Linked DNA regions of Homo sapiens: all the other regions are linked to region 1. Evidence: fine-mapped expression QTL. A gene starts in region 1. Each other region holds a variant in brackets. All regions are shown on one strand. Distances are from middle to middle.

Region 1 (4,091 bases):
TCTCAAAAAGAAAAAAAAAAGTCCTTATCATACCTGGTGTATATATGAAACTTTTTCTAAAGCCACTAACTACTGATTAAATTAACAGGACATATGAGCTTCCTTTCAGTGCCTAATTGTCAATGAGAAACCCAGATATGGAGCGTGAGGAATCTACCATCTTCTAGGCACAGTAGCTGTTATCCGTTTGCCATTTCTTCTTTGCACTGTAACAGGATCCGCTGAAAAACAATTGGAGAAAGAGCCAGATGGATGGCAGTCTGAACTAGGGAAGCTTCTGTTTTGTAGTTTGCAGAAAGAATCTGCATGGGGATCACTGCTTAAGCTTTGCCTCTTTGTTTCCAGACACAGACGCACTTTCCTGCCTAATTTCCATAGCAAATACCCAATGAGCGCCTACTGTATGCCAGGTTCTGATGATGTCAGAGTGAGCCAGCACTTCCGAGGTACTGGCCACTCTCAAACCTCCTGGCTAGGATCTTCCAAGAGCTACAGCCTCTGGCCTGAGGGTCAGTCCAATGCTGTTAGATATTGACAAATGCGGGGCTAATTTTAATGGAATATAGTTTTATCCTTAAAAGGTGTGTGTGTTTTGGCTTTATTTGGGTTCATATAGATTAGGGGCATCATCATAACTCGCTTCCTAGTGCAGACCTGAGTGATTTAATCAAGTCTTGAAACACTTCGGGGCCTCAGTTTTTCATCTGCCTTCCCAACCTCTGAGGTTCTTTTTAGTTGACATCCTACATTCCCATGATCAGAAGGCTGCTAATTCAACTTTTGGCTTTTGTTAAACCTTTTTTTTTTTTGAGGCAGAGTTTTGCTGTCACCCAGACTGCAGTGCAGTGGTGAGATCTCAGCTCACTGCAACCTCCTCCTCCCAGGTTCAAACGATTCTCCTGCCTCAGCCTTCTGAGTAGCTGGGATTACTGGCACGTGCCACAACACCCAGCTAATTTTTGTATTTTTAGGAGAGACACGATTTTGCCATGTTGGCCAGGCTGGTCTCAAACTCCCAGCCTCAAGCGATCCACCCGCCTCAGCCTCCCAAAGTGCTGGCATTACAGGCATGAGCCACCGCACCTGGCCTGTTTTGTTTTGTTTTAATCGTTTTTAATGTCTCTCTCAAAACAAGAAAAGAAAAAAGGACAAAAAATTACTATTTTACTTCTCAGATTAATCTGATCTTAGTACACTACAGCAACAAAAGTCTTAATCAAGTACGTTTTAATTATTTGGTGTCATCATTGCAAGGAAACCATTCAGTAAGAATATTAGTAACCAGACATATAATTTTCTAACCTGAATGAGAAATTAGTTACATGGAGTATAGAAAAAGAAACCACCCCGTTTATCCTCCCTGTGACCATCATTAGTATTACCCGCAAGGCATAAAAAGTCCTAAAATGACACGCACGGCGGCAACATTACCTTTGCAGCTTCAAGCACAGTAAAGTTGAAAGCAGTCCCACCTTGGCAATTGTGTATAAAACGACAATGTGCAGATACAGGAAAAGTCCCAGGTCCGAAGCCACCTAGGAACGATGACCCCAGGACAGAAGTGTGCCCAAACAAATGCCTGGGGTAGGTCATTTTAAAAGGAACAATGTTTACAAGCCCTTTCTAGCGTGAAAAACAGAGAAAAGAGACCCAGCTCTTTCCACCCAATCTGCTGGAGCGCCGTTTCGTTTTCAGTTGGGCGAGAGGGAGACATGTGGCCTCTCGCCCCTTTTCCTGACTCTGAGAATGTGGCCGGAGCCGGGGCGCTCCTGCTCCGCCTCGCCGCCCTCCCGGGGCTGTCCTGGGCCCTCCGGCCGCCGCCTCCCGCTCCAGTTCGCAGCTGGGCGACAAGTGGCTGGTAAGGAGGCCAGGGGCGGGAGCCTGGGCGCGGGACCGGGGGCGCACGGCGGGGGACCGAGCGCGCGTCCCTGGCTAGAGGTGCCGGGTCCCGGGAGGCCGGGCTGGCGGGGAGGCTGGCGAGCGCCCCCTGGCGGGCACCGCCTTCTAGGCGCACCCGCAGTGCGCCGGGCCCGCCAGCCCCGCCAGCCCCGCCAGCCCCGCCAGCCCCGCCAGTCCCCGCGCAGTCCCCGCGCAGTCCCCGCGCAGTCCCAGCGCCACCGGGCAGCAGCGGCGCCGTGCTCGCTCCAGGTAGGGCCCCGCGCCCCGCGCCGCCGCCGGGAGGGAGCGGGCTGGAGGGGCCGAGACCCGTGGCGAGAAGGGCTACCCGGGCCCCTCGGAGAGCCTCCGGGAAGGGGTGAGGGCTGCCGGGTGAGCAGGCGGAGTAGGAAATGGAACCAAGCGGGCGCAAGAGCGCACCGGGAAGAATTTCCCCGCTGGGTTTCTGGGACGCAGGTCGCACGGGATGCGGGATGCTGGCGACCTTAGCCGGGTGGGGGCCGCCGGCCTGGGGGCGCTTCCTCCTTTCTTCTCCCTTTTCCTTCTCACCTGAACGAAAGGGGGCCTGCGGGGAGGGAAGAAGGTGGAAAGTTTTTGTATTCTTGGTAAAAAAAAAAAAAAAAAATGCGTGAGGAAACATGTTTTCTGGAGATGGTATCCTGTCCACAGGGGAGCATAACCCCTTTTCTGGGAATGTATTGGAGCACGGACGGGGGTGCCATTGCTCAGGCTTCTAAACAAGCCAAGTTTCTGGTCAAGGGCCTGGGGGAGGGGGAGGCAGGTCTTTGAAAGATACCAAAAAAAAAAAAAAAAGAAAAATCTGCGTGCTCATTCCTGTAGCCTCAAGTGAGGTTATTCCCCAGCTTTGAGGGCCAGGTTAACCAAGCAAAGTTTGTGCAATAAAGTATCTTTGTGGTATTGGATTTTCGAGAGCCACCGTTATCAATGGGAGAGTGACTGTTGAATGCTACAGGCGTGTGCACTCCCCCGTGGGCATGAAGAGAGGTCCACGGGCTGGCTGGATTGGGAGACTCCGGTCATTTCTGCAAGGAGAGCGCCACAGGACTGCCTTGTTCCCTGGGCTGTCCTGCCCCTGTGCGGGCTGGACGTGGTGCTATAAAAGATGATTCAGGAGTGGCACAGGCTGAGGGGGACTAGGCTGGAGAAGGTGGAGGGAAGAGGGAGCACTCCGTGCCCTCTTCCTGTCCATGGGAAATGAACCATCTGTGCCTGGTGTCCAAGTCCTTGACGTTCCAGTTGCCCTTTGAGAGCACACCTCAAGCCTGCTGAATTCTTTTAAGAACCACCTACAAGATCTGAGAAGTCCGCCCATGCTTTCTGTCAACTCCGGCCTCTTTGACCTTTTCTTTTGCCAAAGAAAATTCTAAACCACTGGGATTCGTGAGGCTCCGTGAGAGAGGCAAGAAGCCTGGAGGGTCCACTCCGTTGCTCTTTTCCCTTGGTTTGCTCCCTAGAAGCCATGGTCCCCACTGGGCCCTTCTTGCCCGAGGCTGTGTGATAGACAAGCCCTATTCCTAAGGTCCTGGGTCCCCCACCCCACCCCACACCCCGACCTTGTGAATCATCATCTTCATATTTTCCCTAACTTATCTTTGGTAACCCTTGTAAAATGGCAGGCTTACTGCGGATGCTTAATCTCTTTTAAAAGTGCTGTGTCTAGCGGGAAGAAGAGTGACATTTACTAATATGGTTGCAAATTACTTTTGAAGTTTATGCACAGCTGTTTAAAATCCCTCTGAGATCAGTGCCATTGTTTGATGCAGGTGCTTACCGCAGAAGGCTCTTGTTAGTCCCTTCCTCCTGCTGATTGAACATACATATATTTAAAGACGTGGCGTAGGGAGAGCTTCTAAAACCTGCAAAGCCAAAGCTGCACAGCTCCTGCAAGTTAGCGATCCACTCTAAGTTTTTCAGTTGTTGTTTCTGTCTTCTTGCCTCTCATGAACTTCTGTTTCTGATTTCAAGAGTAACCTGCTGGGCACCATCAGCCTTTGTTTCAGTGACCTGCGATTTTCTTCTACACTTTAAAAATGTCAATATCCAGGCAAGACTCTTGTCACCCACCATCCGCGTTGTCATGTTCATTTCCGCTACTGTCTTGTGCTGTGGTGCCTCGGGATGGCAACTGTTACTTGAGGAGCTAACTTCTACCTCTGTTCTCCTACAGACATGTC
Region 2 (4,091 bases), 34 kb before region 1:
AGGTAAAGGGTCTTTTCCATTCTGCTGGAGCCATCACTGTGGTCACAAGTTGTTTGCCAGGAAAGACACAAAATCTGGCAAGACACAAATGCCCCGTGAAATTCATTGATAAGCAGTTTCCGTTGTAAATATGAACATACAAATTTATTACATACCCTTTATTGCACTTATACAATGAAATGACTAAGAAGATTGTAGTTCTTCATCACTTTATCAGCACAATCTGTAGGTCTAGACTTAAATTATCCTCTTCTTTCTCACATCTCGTTTTCAGAAATCACCACATGGACTCTCCAACATGATTGGCAATATAAATGCTAATAAATGATAACACAGAGGGCATAATAAATACTTGAACAGAAATTGCAAAAAAAAAAAAAAAAGAAAATGTCACAATAAAATTCTCTTCTAACCTATATAAACCTTGCCTTGCAATGCTTACCACAGCAAAATGCCAGAGCAGAAGCTGAGTTGCAACACACACAAAAATTCCTTCCTTAGAATGGAAATGTCCCTGCAATTTACTATTAGGTTGGGTGCAACTTGCTTGCTCCCTTGTATCTGTCAGGAGTGCAGAAGGTTGGTCAGGGGAGGTGATCTTGGGAGGGAGAGACTGGTATCTTCAGACTAGAGTCTTTCCATGGGCACTATAGCATCCACCGATTATCAACAGCCTTCCCCAATTTGCACAGAAAATTGAGAATGGACTCCTGCAAATAAACACAGTCCTGTTCACAGCAACACAACAAGGATTAAGGATCCCTAACAAAATCCCAACAGGGCTGCTACATCACCAGCATTGTGCAGTATGTGAAGTTCAAAAACTGGGGTTTATCCGTAATGTGATACCAACTTACTCCTGCAAGAATGGCCATAATCAAAAAATCAAAAAACAGTAGATGTTGGCGTGGATGCAGTGATCAGGGAACACTTCTAATTGCTGGTGGGAATGTAAACTAGTATGGCCACTATAGAAAACACTGTGGAGATTCCTTAAAGAACTAAAATGGAACTACCATTTGATCCAGCAATCGCATTACTGGGCATCTACCCAGAGGAAAAGAAGTCATTATAAGAAAAAGATACTTGCAGATTCATACGAAAAGTCATTATACGAGAAAGATACTTGCAGATTTATAGCAGCACAATTCACAATCACAAAATTGTGGAACCAACCCAAATGCCTATTAATCAACAAGTGGATAAAGAAACTGTGGTAGAAATATACAATGGAATACTTCTCAGCCATAAAAAGGAATGAATGAACGGCATTTGCAGTGACCCAGATGAGATTGGAGACTATTATTCTAAGTGAAGTAACTCAGGAATGGAAAAGCAAACATTGTATGTTCTCACTGATATGTGGTAGCTAAGCTGTGAGGACACAAAGGCATAAGGATGATACAATGGACTTTGGAGACTTGGGGGAAAGGGTGGGAGGGGTCAAGGGATAAAAGACTGCAAATAGGGTGCAGTGTATACTGCTCGGGTGATGGGTGCATCAAAATCTCACAAATCACCACTAAAGAACTGTAACCAAACATCACCTGTACCCCCAGTAACCTACTGCAAAAAAAATTTTTTTAATTAGGGTTTACTTTTTCATTCACACTCCCTTGCAGAATCACCAGTGACATCTCACAAGATGCCATTAGAGAAACTGTGTCCTAGAGCGTAGCTTAAATGAGCATGCACATTTATGTCTGACTATTTCTGCTAAAGAGTTCTTAAAGAACAGATGTCAGCCTGCTGATGCTCCACTCTCTCATTGCCCTATGCATTTGAGTGTTTCAGAAGAAATTCATATGACCCCGCTGGGGCAGAGATTCGTCTGATGCCATGAAACTTCGAGTAGACACGAAGGAAAGGCAAGAAATTAAACACAGGAGAACTTGGTTCAGTATCTGGGGCCAGCAAGGAATTATGCACTTAGAACCCAGATGATAGGTCTCAGTGAGGCAGGTTATCTCCACCTCTCCCTATCCCCACCCATCAAGCCCAAAGAAGGTGGATTAGTCTGTTTTCATGCTGCTGATAAAGACATACCCAAGACTGGCTGATGTATAAAGAAAAAGAGGTTTAATGGACTCACAGTTCTGTGTGGCTGGGGAGGCCTCACAATCATGGTGGAAGGCAAAAGGCACATCTTATATGGCGGCAGGCAAGAGAGAATGAGAGAGCCAAGTGAAAGGGGAAACCTCTTATAAAATCATCAGATCTGGTGAGATTTATTCACTACCACAAGAACAGTATGGGGGAAACTGCCTCCATGATTCAATTATCTCCCACTGGGTCCCTCCCACAGCAC[G/A]CGGGAATTATGGGAGCTTCAATACAAGATTTGGGTGGGGACACAGCAGAACCATTTCAGAAGACATAAAGGCTTCTCTCACCTGGAGGATCCTTCACACTAAAGGTTCCTGGAACAGGCACCACCGAATCCTGGATTCATCTATAGCAGGAACAGGTAAGGGATCAGAGAACAATGATCCCTTACCCCATTACAAAATGTTCATATTTTAAATGTCTCCTTTACTTTCTTGCTAAGTACATGGTAAAACCTAGTGAAAGCAACATTAGGCAAGCCCAAGTCCTTATTTTTGTCGATTTTTTCACCCAGACCAATATTTGGGGTCTGCTCTAGTTCACAGATTGGTCTCATTTTGAACTCATGTTGATAAATCTCCAATAAACACTCTTCATGGCCTGGAAATTCTTAGAGGCTTTTCAGGTAAGCCTGCTCTACCAGCTCTTATCAAAGTGACCGCTCTCTTGCGTGTTACCAAATATGTTGGATATTTGTATCCTGATTTTACACCACCTTTTAGTAGCATTTTGTGCATTTCACTATCTCATCTTTTATTTTTTGCTACAAGAATATGTATTCATTGTAACAACTTTATTGAGATATAATTTACATACCATGCAAATAATTCATTTAAAGTATACAATGTGGTGGTTTTTAACACAATCTGTTTTGGAATATTTCATCACCCCAGAAAGAAACCTGTACCCACTACCCATCACTCTCTAATCCCCCCAGCCCTCCTTCCAGCCCTAAGAAACCAGTAATCCACTTTCTGTCTCTAGAGATTTATCTATTCTGGATATTTCATATAAATTGAATTATATATCATGTGATCTTTTATGACTGGCTTCTTTCACAGAGTATGTTTGCAAAGTTCAGCCATGTTGTAGTATATATCAGTATTCCATTCCTTTTTATTGCCAAATAATATTTCACTGTATAGATCTACCACATTTTGCTTATCTATTAATCACATGGCGGGCATTTGGGTTATTTCCAGCTTTTAGCTATTATGAACAATGCTGCTGTGGTCATTCATGTACAAGTCGTTGTGTGGACATATGTTTCATTTCTTTTGGGTATATGCCTATGAGTAGAAGTGCTGGGTCATATGTTAACTCTGTGTTTAACCTTTTGAGGAACTGCCAGACTGTTTTTCAAAGTGACTAAACCATTCTTACATTCCCATCAGCAATGAATAAAAGTTCTAATTTCTCTGCATTCTCATCAACACTTATTATATCTGTTTTTTTTAAAAAAAATTACAGCCATCCTAGTGGGTGTGAAGTGGTTGTGGTTTTCACTGGCATTTTTCTGATGACTAATGAGGTTGAACATCCTTTCATGTATGTACAGGTTATTTTTATATCTACGTTGGAAAATGTGTATTTAGATCTTTTGCCCATTTTTTTAAATGGTTGACTTGGTGTTTTTTTTTTAATTAGTGAGTTGTGTTATTTATATATTCTAGACACAAGTCCTTTATCAGATATATGATTTGCAAATATATTCTTCAAGTCTCTTGGTTGTTTTTCCACTTTCTTGATGATATCTTTTGAAGCACATGTTTTCATTTTTGAAGTTCCATTTTTTTTCCTTTTGTTGTTTGTGCATTTGGCATTGTATTTAATAAAACATTGCCTAATCCAGAGTCTCAAAGATTTACCCCTATGTTTTCTTCTAAGATTTTTACAGTTTTAACTCTCACATTTAGGTGTTTGGTCCATTTTGAGTTAATAATTGCATATTATGTGAGGAAGGGTCCAGCTGTTTTCTTTTGCATGTA
Region 3 (4,091 bases), 27 kb before region 1:
TTCATTTGATAACTTTATTTTATTAATATGAGTTTAGAAGGTACTATGTCCAATCACCCTTCCCAGTCCCTGAGATTCCCTCCCCTGCCCTTGATGACATGCACGATTTCTGCTACATAATAAGCATGGGTGGGAATTCACTATAATTTGAATTTCCCAAAATAAAGATCACAAATTAATAAATCTGCTAAAGATGATCTTGCACATAACTAAATGACTTTTGTGCAAGGGGACATTTAAAAATATATTCCCCGAGTGTAAATTGCCTCCCTCCTTTCTCTGCTACCTCAGATCCCTGACCTCACACCAACTAGAAATACAGTGGAAATTATCAGTACAGCATTATTAATTCTAGTTTTCCACTAAAAGACCTGTATTGTTGAAACAAGACTTTATACATGAAGCATTTTGTAGTTCTGTGAGTGCTTTCACATACTTTGCATCATTTGACCATCACAACAGATGTGTGGTAAGCAGAGTGGATCTTATAATTCCATGTAGTAACAGTGTCAAGGGCAAATACAAGGAGATGGCAACTCAGGGTCAAGTCTAGCCTAGACCACTTCCTTGGTTGTAAAATGAAGATGAAATGTGATCATATGTGTGAAACTCCTAGTACAGTGCCCAGCGTGGAATACATAGGCATTTTTGCTGTTGTGTGCATGCCACCCTGGAGAAATTGAGGACAAACATGGTCCTGATTAGAATCCCATCCACTCACCACCATCCGTCTCCAGCAGTTCCCACAAGCATCCTGCTTTCTCATGGCCCCTTGACTTTCCACCTGCTGCTCTGTCCAAAATTGCTGCTGCCCATTTTCCATCTGGTTAACTCCCACTTACTGTTAAAGACTTATCTCATGTGGCCCTTTTTCTAAGGCTTTCCCCTCTCAGCTCTTCTCCAGGCTGTGTTAGGTGATCCTTCCTGGGACTCCCGTCTCCCTCTCCTAGGTATGGCTGCACCGTGTTGTGCTATAGCTGCCTGCTCCCAAGTTTGTCTCCTCTGTTGCCAATACTTACCTTTAGGTCAGGTAATCTCTGTTTTGCAGTTCTTGAGTAGATGTTCAATCAATATTCTTTCCTTAAATGAATGAATACATAAATGAATAAAAGAAGGTAGGAAGGAAGCAATTAATTTGCTTTTTGTGTGTGCCCCTTGTAACATAACTGAGATGCCAACAGCTTTTCCACTATCCTGGAGATAAGCCAGCACTCTGTTTTAAAGCAGAAAGCAGCAGGGCATGATTTCCCTCAAGGAAAGCATTTCTTGAGTTTCCAGGGATCTAGCCTGTGGCCACAGGTTTAGAAATGATAAGACAGCTGAATCTGAGTTGGGGGAAGGAGCATCAGTTCATTGCAAAGATCATTTTTCTTGGCACTAGTCAAAGAAGAGGACAGAGACATCTGCATGTCCCAATGACATCACTTGGCCCTGCCTTGCACAATAGAGGAAAAGAGCTGTCAGGGCAAATTTCCAGTTTATCTAGACATAGCTGGGCCAAGGCCAAGATTTTCCACCCCTCTCCCTACCCCTACTGCTCCCAACACCGAAAATGGCCTTTGGAGCATTGAATAAAACTGCCGGGAAAGAGCCAAGCTCTTCATCATGAGTTCAAGGTGGTGTCATCCTATACCCCTCACCCTTCTGTGCTTCCACTCGCCACCCCCAACTTCCACCCAAGAAGCCACTCCCTGAATTTGAAGATTAGCATTACTCCACATTTTTTATACTTAAGCTATATATGCATATATCCTCAAAAATGTAGAGCCTTGTTTAACATTTCTTAAACTTTATGTATGTTTTATCATGTTGTACACACTCACCTTAACTTACGAGTGTCTTCTCAATATTACATTGTGAAATTTACCCATTTGAATATTTGTAGCTCTGCTTCATTCATTCCCTTGGGTGACTCTCAGGTCCCCAGGGTGGGTGTCAAATGTGACAGAAGCTAGTCAGAAATGTGCTCTGTGTGGTATGTGAGGCTGGTGGGAGGGCATGAAGGGGCATACCACTCTCAGCTCTTAGCCTGCTCTCATCTTGGGGTAAACGTGTATCCGGGGAGGATCTGTGATCTGCTTCATCACATGGAGACTGGGCTGATCTCATTTCCTGAGCTTTG[C/T]TCCCCTCTTGAGTGATTCTACAATCAGACAGTATATTGTCACCAAAACAACGCTGGGCTGGAAGTCAGAAACCTAGATTCTTGTCCCAGTTCTGAAATAAGAACCCATGTGACCTCTGGTAAGTTATTTCACCTTAGCAAGCCTCAGTTTCCACGTGGAGTATAAGTTGGTTTTCAGAAGCCTTACAAGTCACAGAGTACCCATGCGGCACATTTCTAGGGTGGCCTGCCGTGAAGTTGCCAAACTTTGTACGGAAGGACCCTGTGGTGGTCTCTGCACCCCCACTTCCCACCTAAAGATAACCACGCAGATTACCTAACTTTCCTAAGCCTCCCTTACCTCCTCCCCACAAGTTGAGAAAATGATGAAGTTATAAAATGCATGTAGGGTGGGCACGGTGGCTCACGCCTGTAATCCCAGCACTTTGGGAGACTAAGGTGGGCGGAACACCAGGTCAGGAGATAGAGCCCATCCCGGCTAACACGGTGAAACCCTGTCTCTACTAAAAATACAAAAAATTAGCCGGGCGTGGTGGCGGGCGCCTGTAGTCCCAGCTACTCGGGAGGCTGAGGCAGGAGAACGGCATGAAACCCAGGAGGTGGAGCTTGCAGTGAGCCGAGAGAGATTTCGCCACAGCACCCCAGCCTGGGTGGCAGAGCGAGACTCCGTCTCAAAAAAGAGTAAATAAATAAATAAAATGCATGTAAAGTGCTGAGCACAAGGCTGGCACATAAAAAGTGATAAATGTTAGTTAATAGTATCAGCATTTTTCTGAAGATAATATTTTCCCTTTTTTGCATAATCTCTGTCCTCCTAAAAATATGCATCCCCCATACCTATTCCTATAAGTCTTTGGAGGGTATTTTGTCTTCTCCTGTAACTGCCACTGATCATGCCCCTACACCCAACCATGTCACCACAAGGACACAGAGGCCACGGCACTGGTGCTGTGCTGCCTTTGACCACCATAGCCAGCCTCCAAGTCTGGAGCACCAATGCTTCTTTAATACTTTTCCCAAAAATCCTAGACTTTGTTCCATTTCCCAAAAGTAAAAAAGCCAAAGCAAAGAAGGAAACCTCTCAAAGTCATTCTTGCCTTATTTTGGTTGCTGATTTTGATCATTGTTGTTTATTTTCAATCCCTTTTCTTCTGAGCACTCATGGAATATAGGCTGGGAAACAAGTCTAACAGAACTTTGCCTCTCTCTCTCCCAACAGCCAAGGGTAGTTTTGTCTCTTGAGCGTATTTCTGAGATCTAGGTCATATCTATGTACCTTATGCTCATCTCTGCAAATAGGCTGTTGCCCAAGAAACTTTTTGGTTCCTCAGAAACTTCTGGTCACCAGCCGGGCGCGGTGGCTCACGCCTGTAATCCCAGCACTTTGGGAGGCTGAGGCGGGTGGATCACGAGATCATGAGATCGAGACCATCCTGGCTAACATGGTGAAACCCCGTCTCCACTAAAAATACAAAAAATTGCCAGGTGTGGTGGCGGGCGCCTGTAGTCCCAGCTGCTTGGGAGGCTGAGACAGGAGAATGGCGTGAACCTGGGAGGCGGAGCTTGCAGCGAGCCAAGATTGCGCCACTCCACTCCAGCCTGGGCGACAGAGCGAGACTCCATCTCAAGAAACAAAAACAAAAACAAAACTCCTGGTCGCCATGCTCGCTTTGGTTCTGTCTCTAGCTCTGCCACCCTGGGACTTCAGGACCCTTCTGAGCTACAGTATTCCCACCTCTGCCCGTCAGTGCAGAGGCCCACCCCTCAGCACTCTGTAAAGACCCTCCCCTTCCCCTTGTTGGCCGATTTCTCCACCTCTTAATGAAGGAGTAACCATCTGGCCTCTCTTAGGGGACATCATTAGAGGGTGTCATAGAAAAAAAATAATTGTCCCCCAAAGATGTTATTGTAATCCCGGAACCCGTGGATATGTATTTTTTATGGCAAAAGGGTCTTTGCAGGTGTGATC
Region 4 (4,091 bases), 21 kb before region 1:
CATCCCAAACTCCAACTGCAAGGGAATCTAGGAGATGTCATTTTTAATATTCCAGCCTCTACTCCAAGAAGGCAGTTGAAACCAATCCGCAGTGTCTGCCCACTCCCGTGGGGATTCCTCAAGGAAGTACCACCAAGGGACTATCTGGAAAATCATGCAGTGAGGGTAATCCAAGCCCAACAGCTGCATTCGTGAGCTCTGGACATGCCAGAGACTTCTTGGCAGATGAGCTGGGAGTCAGAGCCTTGAGAAGAATGCAGGACCAGTTGTTTGGCAAGTGAGGGAGGCAATTCAAACTCAGCTCAGATGTTATGCGGATCAGGAATTTGAACTTCGAATTGTGCTCCATTGTTACCTTTTTGTGTGTTGGATTTTTCTTCATAGTTACTTTTATCTTATTGTTTAAAGTTCTCCTATTTTATTTCAGAAATGGAGAAAAAAGATTTCTACACCATAGTCAAGGTCTCTAATGGGAGAACTAACTAGTGAGAGAGGAATTATTCCCACCAGAGGGGAATTCCCTCTGACAAGCTTCTCAATTTACAAATTCTCAGCTTATGTTGAATTTGGCAAATGAGAGCCATATACACATTGTTTTTATTTTGGAATTTGGATCTATACAATTAACTAAGTGAAAGCTAGTATGCTATATGAATGCTAATTAATTGCTCCTCTTTTAAATAACAACAATTAAGACATTGTTAGCTGTACTGGTTTGCATACACAAATTGTTTGTCTTTGCTACTGGAGAAACTCACTGATCACAGCTGCATGAAAAATGTCTGGTCTACGAAACTTCCATCCATCTTCACATGATAATGCTTAGTTATGCACAATTAATTAACACTTGTAGATCAAAGGATTTTACTCTTATTTATGTCTACCTTTAACTCCTAGAATTGTGTACAATTACTTCCTGAGAAAATTTGTGCAGAATAATCACTTAACATGAAATAAAGTAATAAAACATTGAAACTGGGATGTGCATATGTGCATGAGTCTGGGATTGGGTGAGTTTCTGACAAATTGAGCATATGGAGCCTTGTGATTGATACAAAAGTAGCCATCTCTGAGAAGCCCCAAGCAGCTCGTGTTTGCACAGATTCTCTAGTGACTAAGACTGTTCTTATTTTCTCTACGCCTTTTTCCACTTTCCCATAAGCATTTTTAGACTATGCACTGTTTTTCTACACTGAAATCATCAAGTCACCTCCAAATCTTAAAACCAAGCAGAGAAAGGCCATTATTTAATCATAGCAGTTATGGGGTACAGAAGCAGTCTTCACATTTCCTACATCACATGCAGCCAGAAATCATTTCCTCCCACTGTAAACCCACCAGATTTTTTTTCAACTCACAGGAAGAAACAATGTTTTGGTCTCACTTATTTGCAGGTATATTGGAGGTTTGTATATCTTAAAAGAGAAACTGTCTCTAAGCCCCCAAACCCAAACCAAGGTTAAAAAATGCCCCCTTTTTCCTATTTGGCCTGGAAGCCAAATAATGCTTTCAAAGTAAACCTGTGCATTTTTAAAAACCAATGAGGATAATTCAGAATAAATAAATAAATAAATAAATATTCAAGTTTTCTCTCAATTTTGCAGATCTGGCCACACATCACATCAGCCTCAGGGTCTTCAACATTTTGTGACTGCCACGAGCTTTCCCCAGAACGATAAGATCAACACCGGTGGCTGAATATATCTCTGTCTCTAATTAAAGGCTTCCTTCTGTGCTGTGCTATGGATTAACTTGTAATCTACCGGCAGGTCTTCTTATGCTAGTTACCAAATACACAGTTCCAGGGACGAATTCTCTTTGAAACACCTCATTGATGAGTATTTAAAGCAGGGATCCCTAACCTCTGGCCTACAGACATGTAGCATTCCATGGCCTGGTAGAAACCAGGCTTCACAGCAGAAGGTGAGTGGCGGGCCAGCAAGCCAAACTTCATCTGTGTTCACAGCCGCTCTCCGTGGCCCACATTACCATCTGAGCTTCGCCCCCTATCAGATCAGTGATGGCATTAGATTCTCACAGGAGCATGAACCCTATCGTGAACTGTGTGTGCGAAGGATCTGGGTTGTAAGCTTCTTATGAGAATCTAAGGCCTGATGATCTGTCACTGTCTCCCATCACCCCCAGATGGGGCTGTCTAGTTGCAGGAAAACAAGCTCAGGGCTCCCACTGATTCTACTTTATGGTGAGTC[G/A]TAGAATTATTTTATTATATATTACAATGTAATAACAATAGAAATAAAGTGCATAATAAATGTAATGCACTTGGATCATCCTGAAACCATCCCTGTCTCCACCCCATCCATGGAAAAATTATCTTCCATGAAACCAGTCCCTGGTGCTGAAACGGTTGGGGACTACTAATTTAAAGGACACCCCATCATGCATCTCAACTACTATTTTTGAGGACAGATGTTAGTTATCCTGAATAATCAATTTTGTTATTCATCTGTTTCTCTTTTATATTTCTCACAGATACGATTTATCAACTGGATAATTTCTCTGAGTAATCAAGAAATTAGTAGCCTACGCTTGTAGTATGTGTTAACTGGGGAGATAAAGATTCCAAGGATAAAGAGAGTAAATTGATGTACATCTAATCAATGGATGTAACACCAATTTAAATGTTTAATCAATTCTCACAAACTCTTCAAACCCCTTGAGATGCTCTGTGTTCTCAGGTGGCTGCCATGCAGAGCCTGCGAATCCAGCAAGGGACTCTTGAGGCACCAGCAGCCTCCTTGTGAATGGCACCTGTCCCCCTAGCAAGACCACCGCCCTGGCCTGGCTTCATTACCTGGTCGTATAAAGACGGCAATGTTTCACTACCTTCCCAGAATTAGTGCTGACTCCCTTGAGTACCCAAACAGGAAATCCACAAGTTTTAAAGTACCCGTTCAATCAACCATGCTTGGTAACTTTCACACAGGCTTATGCAAGAACTTGCTCCAGTACTGTTTTTAATCATCTCTTCTGGAGCTGGCAAATTGTTTGCTTAATTTTGCATATGCCAACTCCAACGAGCTCATAATAGCTCCCAGGAGCGCTGCATTGAGAAGGATTCTGAGATCCTATATGAGCTTATGGGAAAGCACATTGTGTCAGGCAGCATTTATGCCCCATCAGTCTTGCTCCAGCCACTGCTGTAGGAACCACCTGTGCACAAGTGAACCTCACAACACCTCACTTCAGTTTCCTGCTGTCTCTTTTGCCTTCTATCTGGGGGCAGTCCTGCTCCTGTGGTGAGGAATCTCTGTAGGAACCAGCCCAGCCATGCTGCCAGTGGGCTAATTGCTGGGGCAGCCCTTGACCAGTGGGCTGAGAGCCAACAGGGAAATACTCCATTTCTGTGTCTTGGGTGGACAGTGCTGAGGAACATCCTACACCATTCCTCAGATTGCCCTTGATATGGTTTGGCTCTGTGTCCCCACCCAAATCTCATCTTGAACTGTAGCTCCCATAATTCCCACGTGTTGTGGGAGGGACCCAGTGGGAGATACTTGAATCATGGTAGTGAATAAGTCTCATAGGATCTGATGGTTTTATAAGGGGTTTCCCTTTTTGTTTGGCTCTCATTCTCTCTTGTCTGCCACCATGTAAGACATGCCTTTTGCCCTCCACCATGATTGTGAGGCCTTTCCAGCCACGTGGAACTGTGAGTCCATTAAACCTCTTTTTCTTTATAAATTACCCAGTCTCAGGTATATCTTTATCAGCAGTGTGAAAACAGACTAATACAGTCCTCCCTGGGGTTGATCCCACAGCCATAACCAGCTAATAATGCATCTATAAACCGGCTGGAATTCCCACTTTCCCTCCTCACTCTCCTCAGTTCCCCATTCCTGTTCTCTCAGATCACTTCTCAAAGTAAATTGTTTCTATAAGAGTTCTTATCTCAAGTTCTGCTTTCTTGGGGGGAAATCCAAGCTAAGAAAAGTCGCTGCTAAATTATTGGGGTTAGCCATGAATGAAGGTTTCATGGGGAGTTCTACCTCTTAAGTTCTACCTCCTGGTGTCTTCCATCCCTTACAATGATTTCAACTCCAATCAGCAGCGGAGCAACTGATACAATATCA
Region 5 (4,091 bases), 50 kb before region 1:
ACCTATCTCTGCATAATTCTCATAAAAACACACGTGCTCTCCCTGCCAATCGTGTCCGACTGATCTCTCAAACCCAAGCACCTTCTACAAAACGACAACTCCTTTCCTTCCTAGGCATGGTTAGCGCGGTCAGAATTCTTACACAAGAGCCAGGACAACACCCTGTAGGCTTTCTGTCCAAACAACTTGACCTTACTGTTTTAGCCTAGCCCTCATGTCTGCATGCAGCGGCTGCCACTGCTTTAGTACTTTTAGAGGCCCTCAAAATCACAAACTGTGCTCAACTCATTCTCTACAGTTCTCCTAACTTCCAAAATCTATTTTCTTCCTCATACCTGATGGATATACTTTCTGCTTCCTGGCTCCTTCAGCTATACTCACACTTTGTTGAGCCTCCCACAATTACCATTGTTCCTGGCCCAGACTTCAATCCGGCCTCCCACATTATTCCTGATACCACACCTGACCCCCATGACTATCTCTCTGATCCACCTGACATTCACCCCGTTTCCCCAAATTTCCTTCTTTCCTATTCCTCACCCTGATCATGCTTGATTTATTGATGGCGGTTCCACCAGGCCTAATCGCCACACACCAGCAAAGGCAGGTTTTGCTATAGTACAAGCCACTAGCCCACCTCTTAGAACCTCTCATTTCTTTTCCATCGTGGAAATCTATCCTCAAGGAAATAACTTCTCAGTGTTCCATCTGCTATTCTACTACTCCTCAGGGATTATTCAGGCCTCCTCCCTTCCCCACACATCAAGCTCGAGGAATTGCCCCACCCAGGACTGGCAAATTAGCTTTACTCCACATGCCCTGAGTCAGAAAACTAACATATCTCTTGGTCTAGGTAGACACTTTCACTGGATAGGTACAAGCCTTTCCTACAGGGTCTGAGAAGGCCACCGCAGTCATTTCTTCCATTCTGTCAGACATAATTCCTCAGTTTAGCCTTCCCACCTCAATACAGTCTGATAACAGATGAGCCTTCATTAGTCAAATGAGCCAAGCAGTTTTTCAGGCTCTTAGTATTCAGTGAAACCTTTATATCCCTTACGGTCCTCCATCTTCAAGAAAAGTAGAAAGGACTAATGGTCTATTAAAAACACACCTCACCAAGCTCAGCCACCAACTTAAAAAGGACTGGACAATACTTTTACCACTTTCCCTTCTCAGAATTCAGGCCTGTCCTTAGAATGCTACAGGGTACAGCCCATTTAAGCTCTTGTATAGACGCTCCTTTTTATTAGGCCCCAGTCTCATTCCAGACACCAGACCAACTTGGACTGTGCCCCAAAAAACTTGTCATCCCTACTATCTTCTGTCTAGTCATACTCCTATTCACCGTTCTCAACTACTCATACATGCCCTGCTCTTGTTTACACTGCTGGTTTACACTGTTTTTCCAAGCCATCACAGCTGATATCTCCTGGTGCTATCCCCAAACTGCCACTCTTAACTCTTGAAGTAAATAAATAATCTTTGCTGGCAGGACTATGCTGAATCTCCTTAGGCACTCTCTAATCAGATATCCTGAGTCATCCCAATTCTTAGACATTTTATACCTGTTTTTCTCCTTCTGTTATTCCATTTAGTTTCTCAATTCATCCAAAACCGTATCTAGGCCATCACCAATCATTCTATATGACAAATGTTTCTTCTAACATCCCCACAATATCACCCCTTACCACAAGACCTCCCTTCAGCTTAATCTCTCCCACTCTAGGTTCCCAAGCCACCCCTAATCCCGCTTGAAACAGCCCTCAGAAACATCGCCCATTCTCTCTCCATACCACCCCCCAAAAATTTTCGCTGCCCCAACACTTCAACATTATTTTGTTTTATTTTTCTTATTAATATCAGAAGGCAGGAATGTCAGGCCTCTGAGCCCAAGCCAAGCCATCACATCCCCTGTGACTTGCACGTATATGCCCAGATGGCCTGAAGTAACTGAAGAATCACAAAAGAAGTGAATATGCCCTGCCCCACCTTAACTGATGACATTCCACCGCAAAAGAAGTGCAAATGGCCAGTCCTTGCCTTAAGTGATGACATTACCTTGTGAAAGTCCTTTTCCTGGCTCATCCTGGCTCAAAAAGCACCCCCACTGA[A/G]CACCTTGCGACCCCCACTCCTGCCCGCCAGAGAACAAACCCCCTTTGACTGTAATTTTCCTTTACCTACCCAAATCCTATAAAACGGCCCCACCCCTATCTCCCTTCACTGACTCTCTTTTCGGACTCAGCCTGCCTGCACCCAGGTGAAATAAACAGCCATGTTGCTCACACAAAGCCTGTTTGGTGGTCTCTTCACACGGACGCGCATGAAAGTTTGTGTAAAGATTTATTATACCAAAACTCTGTGAGCAGTTCATTAACCTTCAAGGAACTACCATGTATTACATTCAAAGACAAAGAAAATCAAAACTTTATCTATCTTGGGGCAGCCACGATATTGAAGACAGGTCCGTAGTATTTTCTTGATTCTGAACATTAATTTTGAGCTCTTTCAGAGAAGTAGAGGAAGATGCAACATGGAATGTCCTTTATACATCATTATAACTCCTCCCTGGCTTTCTAGCTTGCCCTGAGGTGACCCACGTTTTAATATGCAACTTGAAAGTCTGTTTAATTTAGAAAGAGTCATGACCAGGAATTTTCAGAGCAAATTTTAAAAGTCATGATGGGGACTGGAAACTAGACCTAAACTTGAAAGATGTTTGTCAGCAAGGTTTTATTGTATTCCATTCGAATCTGCAAGCAGACAAAGCACCAATGATAACGTAGCACCAGCAATAACAATTATAGTAATAATATCTGCCATTTTTGACCATTATCCTGCAATAAGCATTGTGCTTGATATGCATGATTTCGTGCAAGTCTCACACTAACCCTTTGAGGAGACAATACATTTTGTATCCTCATTTTATATACAGAACAAATGGTAGGAGAATTGGGTTATAACAAGGAATCAATAAACAATGTAAATGCATGCTATATGATAGTAGTAGTATCTTCACATTGAAAATAATTTGGCTTCAGTAAAACACATTTTAATCTGTCCTGTTAAATTGCTAATTCTACACTTAATCTTAATTTTTAAGTTTCATGTTTAAGGACTATGAACAGAAGGGTTTTAAATCTTAGGTTTAAATAATAAAAACTAATTCAGTCAGTAATCAGATATATATATATATATATATATATATATATATATATATATATATATATATAGAAAGAGAGGGGAAGAGAGAGAGAGAGCATAATATTGTGATTTATTTTAAGGAATCTGCATTTTACTCAAATTTATGAAGCATTGGAGTACACACTGATAGCTGCAAGAAGACAAAAGCAATGGCCAGGTGTGGTGGCTCACGCCTGTAATCCCAGCACTTTGGGAGGCTGAGGTGGGCAGATCACTTGAAATCAGGAGTCTGAGATTAGCCTGGCCAACATGGTGAAACCCCATCTCTAATAAAAATACAAAAATTAACCAGGCGTGGTGGCACATGCCTGTAATCCCACTTACTTGGGAGGCTGAGGCAGGAGAATCGCTTGATCCTGGGAGGCAGAGGTTGCAGTGAGCCCAGATCACACCACGGCACTCCAGCCTGGCTGATAGACCAAGAGTCCCTCTCAGAGAAATAAAAAAAAAAAAACAAAAAAAAAAAAACAAGAACTGATTATGCTAATCCTGGAGGAAAGAGATCGATGGTAAAGAAATAAAGAAACATGTCAAAAGAGTACTCAGTCATCTAAAAGCCTCCTGCCCAGAAGAGTTGTTGCATTTTTCTTCATGGCCCCAACTGCTAGAATTACAATTAATGGGTGGAGGAAGCCACACACACATGGACCAACACACACATACACACATGCACCCACACATTTACACACACGCACACACACACACAGTTGTGGCAAAATTGAATGAGCTACCTTGGGTGGAAATGAACCTCCTTTCACTGGGGGCATTTCAACAAAGACTTCCATGACTAGTGTGGGCAAGAAGGGTTGACCAGAACATTAAGACCCCTTACTGTGCTAGGATTCTCTGCCTCTTAGGGGAAGAGTGTTGAAGCTGGGAAGTCAGAA
Region 6 (4,091 bases), 110 kb after region 1:
GAAATTACCACAATTGTAGCAAAGAAAAGAAAACCCACGGAAACCACATCCTTCCAAAGACGTGTCCCTGCACTAAGACAAGAATTAACTTTTCATGCTGCCCCCATCTGTAGTGACAGATAAGCCTCTTTTCTTTAACGTCCTCTGGCGGCGTTCTGATCCTGAGAACGCTTACACGTTGTTATTTCAGAAACTGGGGATCACTCAGACATTCTGCAGGTTCCCCTGCTATGTAACCAAACTGTGATTTGGCAAATGTTAGATTTTATAGCAAATTTACAAAAATGAGTCGATTTACAGCTGTCAACCTGAAATAATCAAAAAGGCCAGAATCTAATTTAAAGAGCATTTATTCAAACTCAAAGTTTGAGGATGGCCCACCTGGAAACACCCCAAAAGAATGAAGTCAGAGTTGTAAAGGAGGGAACTTTAGGGTTTCCATAGGGAGAGACAGAGGCATTTTTAGCAGGATTACATTTTTTCATACAAGGCTGGTGCATAGTTCCAGGAACTTGGTTACAGGCAGTGTTTCTTTTTGGGAAAGGGACATTTAACATCTTTTACAGAGTGTGCTATAGTCATGGGTTTTCTGTCATCTGGTCTAAGGAAAATAGGACAAAAAAAGGAAAAGGTAATCTTTAACAAGATTCATTAATTAAAAAGGCAGGAGGCGGCCAGGCACGGTGGCTCACACCTGTAATCCCAGCACTTTGGAGGCTGAAGCGGGTGGATCACCTTGGGGTCAGGAGTTTGAGACCAGCCTGGCCAACATGGCGAAACTCTGTCTCCACTAAAAATACAAAAATTAGCCAGGCGGGGTGGTGGGCACCTATAATCCCAGCTACTCAGGAGGCTGAGGCAGGATAATCACTTGAACCCATGGGGCGGAGGTTGCAGTGAGCTGAGACCACACCACTGCACTCCAGCATGGGCGAAACAGTGAAACTCCGTCTCAAAAAGAAAAAAAGAATAAAAGAAGTCAGGAAGTGTTTGTCCCTGACAATTGTTTAATTCTCTCTAGTCATTGTACAGAACAAGAGAAAAAAGGAAGCAAGTTAATCTATAATCTGAGAAACAGAAGTTGTAACCATATGTGACTCAGATCACAGTCGCATCTCTCTCAAGGCGTAAAACGCATTTTAGGAATTCTAACACCTTTTAAATGTTATTTATTTTCACACAGTAATTTATGGGAAATTAATGTTGCACTCACAATGTTTCCTTACAGTTTTCTCGTCCAAATACACAGGAAATAACGGGCAATGAGTGAATACATATTCAGGAATTCTTGGACTAAAAGAACAAGACACTCACTCAGTGCATCTGAAATGCCGCATCTTTCCTACATGCCTGCTTTTTTTTTGTTTGTTTTTTTCTGAGATGGAGTCTCGCTCTGTCGCCCAGCCTGGAGTGCAGTGGTGCGATCTCGGCTCACTGCAAGCTCTGCCTCCCGGGTTCACGCCATTCTCCTGCCTCAGCTTCCCAAGTAGCTGGGACTACAGGCGCCCACCACCATGCCTGGCTAATTTTTTGTATATTTAGTAGAGATGGGGTTTCACCGTGTTAGCCAGGATAGTCTCAATCTCCTGACCTTGTGATACACCCACCTCGGCCTCCCAGAGTGCTAGGATTACGGGCGTGAGCCACCGCGCCCGGCCCCTACACGCCCACTTTTTAAGCTCACAGATCTGTTCTCATCTTGATGTGACTCTGTAATATTCTTCCAGGCTCATGGCCCATATTATCTGCCCATTCCTTTGTCAGCCATTCTCACAAAGTCCCAAAAGTATTGTCACCAGCTTCCCAGAAGACATGAGCATTTGACATCTCCTTCAAGAGAGTGCCTCAGGAAAGTGCATGCCTTCTGTGAATCTACTATCCCTCTTTTGTTTTTTGTTGTTGTTGTTGTCATTGTTGTGTTTGTTTGTTTGTTTTGAGAAGGAGTCTCACTCTGTCGCCCAGATTGGAGTACAGTGGAACGATCTCGGCTCACTGCAACCTCCATCTCCTGGGTTCAAGTGATCCTCCTACCTCAGCCTCCCAAGTAGCTGGAATTACAAGCGTGCGCCACTGCGCCCAGCTAATTTTTTTTTCTTGGTATTTTAGTAGAGATGGGGTTTCACCATGTTGGCCAGGCTGGTCTCAAACTCCTGACCTCAAGTGATCCACCCACCTCGGCCTCCCAAAGTGCTGGGATCACAGGCATGAG[C/T]CACCATGCCCAGCCTACTCTCCCTCCTTTGAAACCTTGCTGACAAACTACCTACTCTATAAATCACGCTCAGATACACTAAATCCTACTTGTCATTCAGACGCTCAGGCTTCTCAGCTTACGTGACCCAGAAAGATGATTTTGCTCCTGTACTGCTGGGTGTCTTCTGTGACTTCTTTCATATGTTCTGTTTAAATAATACCTTGTCTATGTAAATAATACATTCCTTGATACCAAGATGCATGTTTCGCTCTTTTCTTTTGTTTCATTTGCCCGTAGAGTGCTAGATAATGTTCAGGGGCTGGGCACAGGGGGGAGCGGAAGAGAAAAAGAAAGATAAATGGTCTGACTGTAGATCATACTGGCTAACTCAGGTGCCAGGAAGGCTGGTCCCGAATAGAACTGCAGAGGAGAAGTCTATCTTTGACAAACCCTCTTCCCACCCCTCTCTGACCTCCTGTTTCATTATTTTCCCCTTCATCCCAGAGTTCACATGATCTTGTACCCACTGTAGCTATCAGGTCTCTGCCTTGATTTTTTTTTTTTTTTGCGACAGTCTCACTCTGTTGCCCAGGCGGCTCAATACAACCTCCACCTCCTGGGTTCAAGTGATTCTCCTGCCTCAGCCTCCCAAGTAGCTGGGGTTACAGGTGTGTGCCACCATGCCTGGCTAATTTTTGTATTTTTGGTAGAGATGGGATTTCACCATATTGGCCAGGCTGGTCTTGAACTCCTGACCTCTAGTGATCCACCCACCTCAGGCTCCCAAAATGCTGGGATTATAGGCATGAGCCACCGCGCTTGGCCTCTGCCTTGATCCTTGATGGCAAAATCGTTCTTCTCCATCTCCTTGTCTCTCCCCCTTAAAACTTCTGTCACTTCAGGAACCTCTTCTCCACCACCAGTCTTAGAGAAATATCTGATAAATAGCATAGAGCAGTTTAATATGTGTTGTTCCTAGCAACGATTTCTTCCTAAAGTGGAGCAGAGTGGAGTTTCCTTATTAGACCCAACATTACGTTGTATTTGAGGTGATTACAGTTCCCATCCTGAGGAGGTGACACGCATGGGACTCTTCAGGGGAAACTGTGGGAATATATGAGCGTCAGAATCAACGTACTGCAGAAATTCAAGTGCTAAACCACAGAAAAGCCCTCTTTTACAAAGTAGGAGGAAGAGCAGGGGGGAAAGGTGATAGGGAGGATCCCTTGGGGTGGTAAGAAGAGGAACAGAGGAGTTAGGAGTATCGGAGGACAGGAGAGGAAAGAATTTCAAGAGAGAAAGGATCATATATTTAATGTGGTGAAGAGTTGACAATCAAAAACTGAGTGTGGAATGTGTCATGGAGGAGGAACAGACAATACAGTGTGAAGGAGTGAGTGGTGGATAGGCAGATTCAGTGGTGATACAGAAATCTTCCAGAAAGAGTTTTCAGAAGATGGAAGCTCATTATGACTGCAGAGTGTAAGGGATGAGAATCATGGGAAATGCTTGAGCCAGAGATGGAGAAACCAGACAAGAGGGAGACTATTCAGGTTGTAGCCTTTTCAGATAGGCTTCTTTCACTTAAGAATATGCATTTAAGGGTTCTTCTTTTCTTTCTGTGGCTTGAGAACTCATTTTTCATTGCTCAGTAATATTCCATTGACAACTAATGATTTGTTATGTTCTTTTGTTTTCCTTATAATGACAGACTCCATGGATCAAGAATTTTAGAGTAGGGAGGGGTGGTAGAGGTTATCAAGTCAGATCCCCTCATTTTGCAGCAAAGGAAATGGAGCTCCAGAGAAGATAAGCCTAGCTGGTCACAGGAGAGTGCTCTTTTCTGTGGTCAATCCAAAATTATTAGTAAAGTTGAGACTTCAAGATACCTAAACACAAA

Alleles and levels. Alleles are on the strand shown, and positions count from the first base shown. SD is a standard deviation of normalised expression in the study named. Not every link is listed here.
In carriers of allele T in region 6, the expression in skeletal muscle of the gene that starts at base 1,934 in region 1 tends to be higher than with C alone (small effect, 0.15 SD a copy in GTEx).

What was found.
Region 2: its variant is fine-mapped to the expression of PRKCQ-AS1 in whole blood (INTERVAL, PIP 0.98).
Region 3: its variant is fine-mapped to the expression of PRKCQ-AS1 in whole blood (TOPMed, PIP above 0.99).
Region 4: its variant is fine-mapped to the expression of PRKCQ-AS1 in whole blood (TOPMed, PIP 0.99).
Region 5: its variant is fine-mapped to the expression of PRKCQ-AS1 in iPS cells (iPSCORE, PIP 0.95).
Region 6: its variant is fine-mapped to the expression of PRKCQ-AS1 in skeletal muscle (GTEx, PIP above 0.99).

The regions. Positions count from the first base shown.
Region 1 is chr10:6,578,268-6,582,358 of GRCh38, reverse strand. PRKCQ-AS1 (PRKCQ antisense RNA 1) reads right to left here and starts at 1,934. Exons shown (of 2, transcript NR_036503.1): 1 at 1,432-1,934. PRKCQ (protein kinase C theta) reads left to right here and starts at 2,083. Exons shown (of 18, transcript NM_006257.5): 1 at 2,083-2,148. RefSeq lists silencers at 1,672-1,821, 1,832-2,081.
Region 2 is chr10:6,611,989-6,616,079 of GRCh38, reverse strand. No RefSeq gene overlaps it. Among named protein-coding and RNA genes, the nearest start is that of LINC02648, 4.7 kb to the left of the region's middle. The variant G/A (reference allele first, on the strand shown) is at 2,309.
Region 3 is chr10:6,605,337-6,609,427 of GRCh38, reverse strand. No RefSeq gene overlaps it. Among named protein-coding and RNA genes, the nearest start is that of LINC02648, 11 kb to the left of the region's middle. The variant C/T (reference allele first, on the strand shown) is at 2,123.
Region 4 is chr10:6,599,472-6,603,562 of GRCh38, reverse strand. No RefSeq gene overlaps it. Among named protein-coding and RNA genes, the nearest start is that of LINC02648, 17 kb to the left of the region's middle. The variant G/A (reference allele first, on the strand shown) is at 2,211.
Region 5 is chr10:6,627,815-6,631,905 of GRCh38, reverse strand. LINC02648 (long intergenic non-protein coding RNA 2648) reads right to left here. Exons shown (of 6, transcript NR_120634.1): 5 at 3,529-4,091. Among named protein-coding and RNA genes, the nearest start is that of LINC02648, 11 kb to the right of the region's middle. RefSeq lists an enhancer at 1,586-2,157. The variant A/G (reference allele first, on the strand shown) is at 2,115.
Region 6 is chr10:6,469,594-6,473,684 of GRCh38, reverse strand. The region is part of intron 12 of PRKCQ (protein kinase C theta); the gene reads left to right. Among named protein-coding and RNA genes, the nearest start is that of PRKCQ, 110 kb to the left of the region's middle. The variant C/T (reference allele first, on the strand shown) is at 2,210.